2 linked regions of the Homo sapiens genome follow. The protein of the gene in region 1 interacts with the protein of each later gene in a biochemical or structural test. Each region holds a gene or a part of one and is shown on either strand. Other genes may lie near its edges.

Evidence for each region. The genes of interacting proteins can lie anywhere in the genome.
Region 2: the proteins of FBLIM1 (region 1) and FERMT2 form a complex in vitro, tested with the Homo sapiens proteins (one study listed by BioGRID).

The regions. Positions count from the first base shown.
Region 1 is NC_000001.11:15,756,690-15,760,440, forward strand, and holds the start of FBLIM1 (filamin-binding LIM protein 1), read left to right. Parts: upstream 1-2,105; 5' UTR 2,106-2,159; intron 2,160-3,751. UniProt on the Homo sapiens protein: Serves as an anchoring site for cell-ECM adhesion proteins and filamin-containing actin filaments. Is implicated in cell shape modulation (spreading) and motility.
Region 2 is NC_000014.9:52,867,312-52,871,062, reverse strand, and holds part of FERMT2 (fermitin family homolog 2), read left to right. Parts: intron 1-3,751. UniProt on the Homo sapiens protein: Scaffolding protein that enhances integrin activation mediated by TLN1 and/or TLN2, but activates integrins only weakly by itself. Binds to membranes enriched in phosphoinositides.

The DNA.
Region 1 (3,751 bases):
CAGTGGTGGCGGTGGAACAGGTGGCCTGGGGTGCTGGAGGCAGGTAAGCAGAGGCAGTTGAACCCCTCATTCCCCTTGGACTGTCCCAGAGCAAATGTGGGAAGCCTGGGTCCTAGACTAAGTCAGTGTGACCTTGAACAAGGCCCCAAATCAACTCTTCGTTGCCTCACTATCCCACCTGGGGGTGCAACAGGTGGTTCAGGGGCTGTCATGGAGGTGAGGGCAGGCAGCTCCACTTTTATCTCTTAAATAAACTTCTGGGTCACTAAGCATTTGCAAAGGGGTTCTACAGCCAAAAGCGCCTGAAAACCCCCAGATCGCACCTTCCTCCTTTGAGTCCTTCCCGTCTCTGTCGTTCAGAGGGTATGGGGAAGTCTCCTCCAAAGGGTGCTGCAAAGCTGGAGTTTTGGGGGGCAGGGGCAGGATATCACTGCCAAGCCAGGAATGAGCCGAGCAGGGACTCAGACAGCCTTGAGTCCCAGCCTCGCCCTGCTGCACAGAACTCTCAGCACCTCCAAGCCCCAGCTTCCGATTCTGTAAAGGATGGCACTGGTACCTGTTCTTGAGACTAGCAGAGCTGTGTGCCCAGGGACACAGCGGCTCTGGTTTGAATTTGGCTCTGCCATTTGCCCCTAGTGTGGCCTTGAGCCTCTCGGGGCCTCAGTGTCCTTGACCGTGAACAGGAATCATCAGCCCTGGTGCTCATGGCTCTTGTGGGATTAGGATGGGGATGAGGATGGGTACCAGCACCTAGAAAGCCCCTATCAATGGCAGCTCCTGGGACTGCTGCTGTTACTGCAGCTTGGCTGAGAGGATCAAATGGGAAAAGGGGCGACAAGAGGGATGGGAGGGGCGATGATCAGTGGGTGAGGGCGGAGGCAGCCTCCTCTGACCCTCATAAACCAGCCTCCCTCAGAAACAGCCCCAGAGCCACCCTGGAGGGGTGACTGTAGCTGAGGGGTTGCAGGACGGGCCAGATCCTGTCTGGCCACCCCGCAGATGGCGCTGGGTCCAGCGCTCCTCAAGCCTCAGCCACTGTGGCTTTAATCAAAAGAACAATCTGTCTGCCTCTGAATCAGACCCAGATTCCTTTCCCCACAATGTCCCTGAGGCCTCCAGGGACCCAGGCAGTCCATCCCGGCCCCATCCCGGGCCCCAGAGTCCAGGCTCTGCCTCCCCTCCCGCTCCCGTCCTAATTGCTCCAGCTGGGAGGGGGAGGGTCACTGGATGTGGAGGGAGGGGTTCAGCCACAGGGCCAGCCGGGCCCTGCCTTCCAGAGCTCCTGGAGCGGCCTGTCCCCCGGGACACCGGGACCCACCTGCAGAGGGCTTACCGCTCAGGAGAGCAGAACAAGGTGACCTGCTCCACTGGGGGTCTCCGAGACCCCCACCCTCAGGAACACTCCCGGAAAAAGCCCCCAACCCAGCATATATTAACCACTATTAATCACAGTCCTGGCTGTAACTGTCACCTTTTATCCTCAGGCCAACCTGGAGAGGTAGGCAGTGGCTACCTCCACTTTACAGATGAAGACACTGAGGCTCAGGAGGTGGCGTGACTGCTCCGGGTCTCACGCTTAGTAAACGGCCGCAGAACCCTGGTCGGTTTGACGCAAGACCCTGGCGGATCCCAGAGCCAAAGTAAGCGCTCACCTCCGCCGGACAGGGTAGGTGGGGTTGCCAACCCAGGAGAGCGAGGGAAGGGGGACGGCAGGGACCACTCGGGGTCCATGAAGAACGCGAGGGGATGGGCAGCGGGGAGGGAAGGAAACCCACCCCGACTCCCCATTCTCCTACCCCCACTCCCCATCCCTCCCATTCCCCCATCGCCCCCATCCCCATTCCCCCCCATTCCCACCCCCTGGCCTGTGCCAAGGGGGAGGGGAGGCGTCGTCCAGGGAACAAAGGGAGGGGGAAGGGGCGGCGCGGGGCGCGGCCGGGCAGGTTGGGGGGCAGGTAGGGGCCGCTTCCGCGGGGCGGGAATCCCGCGCCCCCTCCCCCCGAGCCTCACCTTTTATGGTAAAGCGGCGCGGGGCGGCGGGGCGGAGGGAGCCGAGGGGGCGGGGAGGGCGGACGGGCGGAGGGGACGGGAGGCCCAGCGGCTCCGGGCTCCGCTGGCTCGGGCGTCGGATCGGAGCCGCCGGGGCGCGGGCGGCCCAGGTAAGCGGGCCGGGTGGGTGGGGGTCGCGTCCCTCCGTCCCTGTCCCCGGTGCACACAGGTGACAGCGCCGGCAGTGCTCGGCCGGAGCCTGCTCGGTCGCCAGCCGGGACCCCCGGCGCGGCGCCCCTGGAGGGGCCTGCGGGTGGGGGGTGCGGTCCTCACGCCCTTTGCGTCCCAGTCTCTTGGTCTCTCTCCCCGGAGTCGGGGAGTCGGCAGGTCCGGGGCGAGGGCTCAGTGAGGCCGGCGGAGGGCCGAGTCCCAGCCCGGGAGCGGGAGCCGGGGACCCGGCGCGCAGGGCGGAAGCTCCCGCACAAAAGGCCGGAGTCCCGCACATGGATCGAATTAAAGCTCCGGCGGCGCCCAGCGGTGACCCCGGCGGCCGCCCTGCTCGGCTGCCTGCGGAGGGTCCCGCGTTTCCGGAGCCCGGGGGCGCTCCAGGCCCCTTTTCCTAGCCAGGGTCAGGCAAGGGGAGGGACGGGTCCCGGGGCTGCTCCTCTCTGGGCCTCACGCGCCCGTCGGGGGCTGAGAAGGTGTGGAGATGGGCGATACCCAGGTGTGTGCCCTGGGATGATCTTGGCGTCGGCCCCTACCCCTCACCTCCCACCCAAGCCTGAGGACCCCGGGGAGAGGCTGGGGCCGCGCCCAGATTCCTGCTCTTAATGACGCTGTAGGTTCTGTCCGGGTCCTGGAGGCACCCCCAGCCGAGCCCAGCCCCCGGGCTGCTTCTCCCTCTCAGCTGCTGCCTAACCAGCTGTCCTTCTCTTTGCACCTTCCAAGGGCCTAGACCCTGAGTCTTCTTTCCTTATATATCCTCTCAGCCGCCCTAGGGACACACTCATTCTCACTTTATGAAAAAACGAGGCCAGAGAGTTTCTGTGACCTATTCGGGGTCACCCCGCAGGAAAGAAGTGGGGCCGCGTGTGAACCCAGCTCTCTACCTCCTCTGTTTCCCTGGGGTGGGAAAGAGGTTGAGGGAACCCCTCCCCTAAGTTGCAGGGTGGGAGGGGTTGGGGCACACCCCGCCACTTCTGCCTAAATTTAATTCCGTACCCAAAGGTAGACTGCTTTATCCGGTCATTAAAGAACAAAGCTGGCCGGGAGCGGTGGCTCACGCCTGTAATCCCAGCACTTTGGGAGGCCGAGGCGGGCGGATTACCTGAAGTCAGGAGTTGGAGACCAGCCTGGCCAACGTGGTGAAACCCCGTCTCTACTAAAAATACAAAAATTAGCCGGGTGTGGTGGCGCGCGCCTGTAATCCCAGCTATTCGGCGGCTGAGGCACGAGAATCGCTTGAACCCAGGAGGCGGAGGTTGCAGTGAGCCGAGATCGCACCACTGCGCAGCCTGGGCCACAGAATGAGACTCTGTCTCAAAATAAATAAATAAATAACAAAGCTTAAGCCGGGTGTAGTGGCTCAAGCCTGTAATCCCAGCACTCTGGGAGGCCGAGGAGGGCGGATCACTTGAGGTCAGGAGTTTGAGACCAGCCTGGTCAACATGGTGAAACCCTGTCTCTACCAAAAATACAAAAATTAGCCAGGGGTGGTGGCGTGTGCCTGTGGTCCCAGCTACTCAGGAGGCTGAGGCAGGAC
Region 2 (3,751 bases), on another chromosome or scaffold:
CCACCCTTGGCAAGCCAGTTCTGAGTTACTCCTAGTGGCCCAGCCCATCTCTTCTTTGGGTACATTTGTACGTACACATATTTTTGTAGATAAGGCCTTTCTAACTCGAAGTATTCCGATGTGGACAACAGCACCAGGGAAAAGGGCTCCAGACTGATTTCACAAAAATGACTCCCAAAACAATTTCATTTAACACTTAAAACACAGAGGTGCTTTTCCTGATTCATATTCCTAAATTGTACTTAGTACAGTCATGTATCATTTAACAGTAGGGATACATTATGAGAAATGTGTCACCAGGTGATTTTGTCATTGTGTGAACATTATGGAGTGTGTGTACTTACACAAACCATGATGGTATAGCTGACTGCACACCTAGGCTATATGGTATAGCCGATTGCTCCTAGGTTACAAACCTGTACAGCATTTTACTGTACTGAATACTGTAGACAACTGTAACACAATAGTAAGTATTTGTTATCTAAACATATCTAAATCTAGAAAAGGTACAACTTGGCTGGGCGCGGTGGCTCATGCCTATAATCCCAGCACTTTGGGAGGCTGAGGCGGCGGATCATCTGAGGTCGGAAGTTGGAGACCAGCCTGACCAACATGGAGAAACCCCGTCTCTACTAAAAATACAAAATTAGCTGGGCATGGTGGCATATGCCTGTAATCCCAGCTACTCAGGAGGCTGAGGCAGGAGAATTGCTTGAACCTGGGAGGTGGAGCTTGCGGTGAGCTGAGATCACGCCATTGCACTCCAGCTTGGGCAACAAGAACGAAACTCCGTCTCCAAAAAAAAAAAAAAAAAGTACACTTGTATAGAGCAGTTTCCATGAATGGGGCTTGCAGGACTGGGAGTTGCTCTGGGTGTGAATGGGTGGTGAGTGAATATGAAGGCCTAGGACATTACTATATGCTACTATAGACTTTATTCAATAATTTTCTTTCTTCAAACCTTTGCTTACTGTAACTTTATAACTACTTTTAACATCTTGACCCTTTTCTAATGACACGTAGCTTAAACATTGTACAGCTATACAAAAATATTTTCTTTATATCCTTATTCTATATGTTTTTTTGTATTTAGATTTTTATTTTTTATTTTTAACCTTTTGTTAGCTTAAATCACAGGCACACACATTAGCCTAGGCCTCCACGAGATTGGGATCATCAATATCACTGTCCTTCACCTCTGCATCCTGTCTCACTGGAAGGTCTTCAGGGGGAGTAACAAGCATGGAGCTGTCATTTCCTCTGGTAACAATGCCTTCTTCTGGAATACCCCTGAAGACCTGTCTGAGGCTGTTTTACAGTTAACTTTTTTATTTAAGTAGAAGTACTTTGTAAAATAATGATGAAAAGAATAGTATAGTAAATACATAAACCAGTAACATAGTCATTTATCATTATCAGGTATTATGTACTACTTATAATTGTACATGCTACATCTTTCTATTACTGGCAGCAGAATAGGTTTGTTTACACAGATGTGAGCTATGATACAGCTACAGTGTCACTAGGCAGTATTTTTCAGTTCCATTATAGTCTTATGAGGGCATTGTCGCTGTCGTATATGCAGTTCGTTGTTTACCGAAATGCTGTTATGCAATGCGTGACTGTATATTGTACATTAGGATAGATTTACCGTATTTCAACACAGTGTTGAAATCTGTACCCTAGTACATGAGCTCTGCCTAGTAGTCACTTAAACTATTGCTTTTAAAGTTACACAAATTTTTAAAAAATAGAAAAACTCAGTCCTGGGTAAACAATTGCTATTCCCACATTTTGGAATTCTGTAATTTACCTGAAACTCTTAATTAGGGTCACTACCTTCCTCTCTCAGTCACGGGCGTTTCACTTTTGGGTCTCTGTCATTCTTTGTTGCTCTCAGGATCTGTTGCAACCTTCTCCTGCTTCCCTCTTCAGCTGCCCAGGACCAGCGTAAATGATCCACTGTTGACTTTGAGACTAAATCTGTCTTCTGGCCCCTGTTCTCACTGTCCCTGTTATATCTTAACCTTCTTCCTGTATAACTAAGAGGTCAGGTCCTGGCATGGAATTAATAAGTTTATAAGCTGTTCTCAGTTTTCATCCCACTGCTCCCAAGTCCTCTCAAAGGACTCATCACACTGATCATTGCACTCATCACAGGCACCGCACTGATAACACCTTGACCAAGAATCAAATGGTCTGGATGCTGCTCTTCTACTAAACAAGCCCTATGATTTTTGTTGTTTCGTTTTTTGAGACTATGTTGTACACGCTTATCTCCAACTCTTGGGGTCAAGCGATCCTTCCACCTCTGCCTCCCGAGTAGCTGACACTGCAGGTGCACACCACTACACCTGGTTTAGATCTGTGATTTTGGAAAGATAGCACATCTGGGCCTATAGTATCTTCTTCTGAGAAATGAGAGTGTTAGACTGGATGCCAAGGCTTCATAGAGATCTAAAATGCAAAGTTATTAAAAATTCATTTCAGCTAATACTAAGTGAACTCCTGTGCCACAAACTGTGCTGGGTACTAGAGATACAAGGAAGAACCACTTACAGTCTCAATCCTCAGGATGGTTTAGAGCATGTTGGCGAGATAAAATTACAATTGGGGTAATAAATAGTACTTTGGAAAGGAAAGGAAAAGAGCAAGGGGTAAGGGTGTTCTATAACTTAATCTTCAGTGAGGATGGAGAGACTTCATCGGGGATGGAGAGCCAAGCACAGTGGCACATGCCTGTAATCCCAGCTACTCAGGAGGCTGAGGTGGGAGCATTACTTGAGCCCAGGAGTTCAAGACCAACCTGGGCAACATAGCCAGACCCCATCTCAAAAAAAAAAAAAATGCCTAGAGAGTTTTGTGCTGCTGGAAAATAGAATTTAAGGGGAAGGATGAATACTTCTTAATAGCTATTGAATCTGATTCCTGCTAACATGAGAGGTAGTCGCAGAAGAAACTGGCAGACATTAGATGATAAAAATGGTAAGGAGATTGCTTTTTGAACTGGCAGCAGTGACGTGTCACTGAAAGAACATTAACACAAAAATGACAAGATCCATATTTATACCAGTTATGGTGCAGAGGAGTCATTTTAGAGAGATGATAGTAATCCAAATTAAGGTAATCAACATGGGATGAGAAAAGGGGCAGATTGAATAGATACTGAGGAAGTTTGGTCAATAGTCTGGGTGACTTATTTGGGAGGAGGTTGAAGTGGGGTCATTTTTCTGATTTGTGCAATTGGGTGGATAGTGTGATACTGAGATAAGAATGTAGAAGATGAGAAGAATGTAGAAAAAGGAGCTGGGTTTGGGGGGAAAGATGAGTTTAATTTGGGGATATTTTGAATTTGAGGTGCCTGTGGGATGTCTATTTGGAGCTAGCCTGTAGACATTGGATTAGGGGAGAGATGCACATGCTACAGATACTGATAGGGTAACAGTTAGCAGTAATGGTAAGTGCAGCCATTGCAATGGTTGTCTGTAATGTGAGAAGACAAGATGAAGAATAGAACCCTGCAGATCACCCATGTTTAAGAGACAGGGCAGGTTAGAAGAAGGGGACCTTGCAAAGGAAACAAAAAAAAAATGCATAGGAAGACTATGGCAGTGAAGTATGATGAAAGCTAAGATAAAAGTTGTTTCAAAAGGACAGAGTAGTCAACAATGTCCAGTACTGTAGTAAAGTAAGGTAGTTAGGCCAACATAGTATCTAGCCATGTAGTTCATGACCTTGATAAGAACAAGTT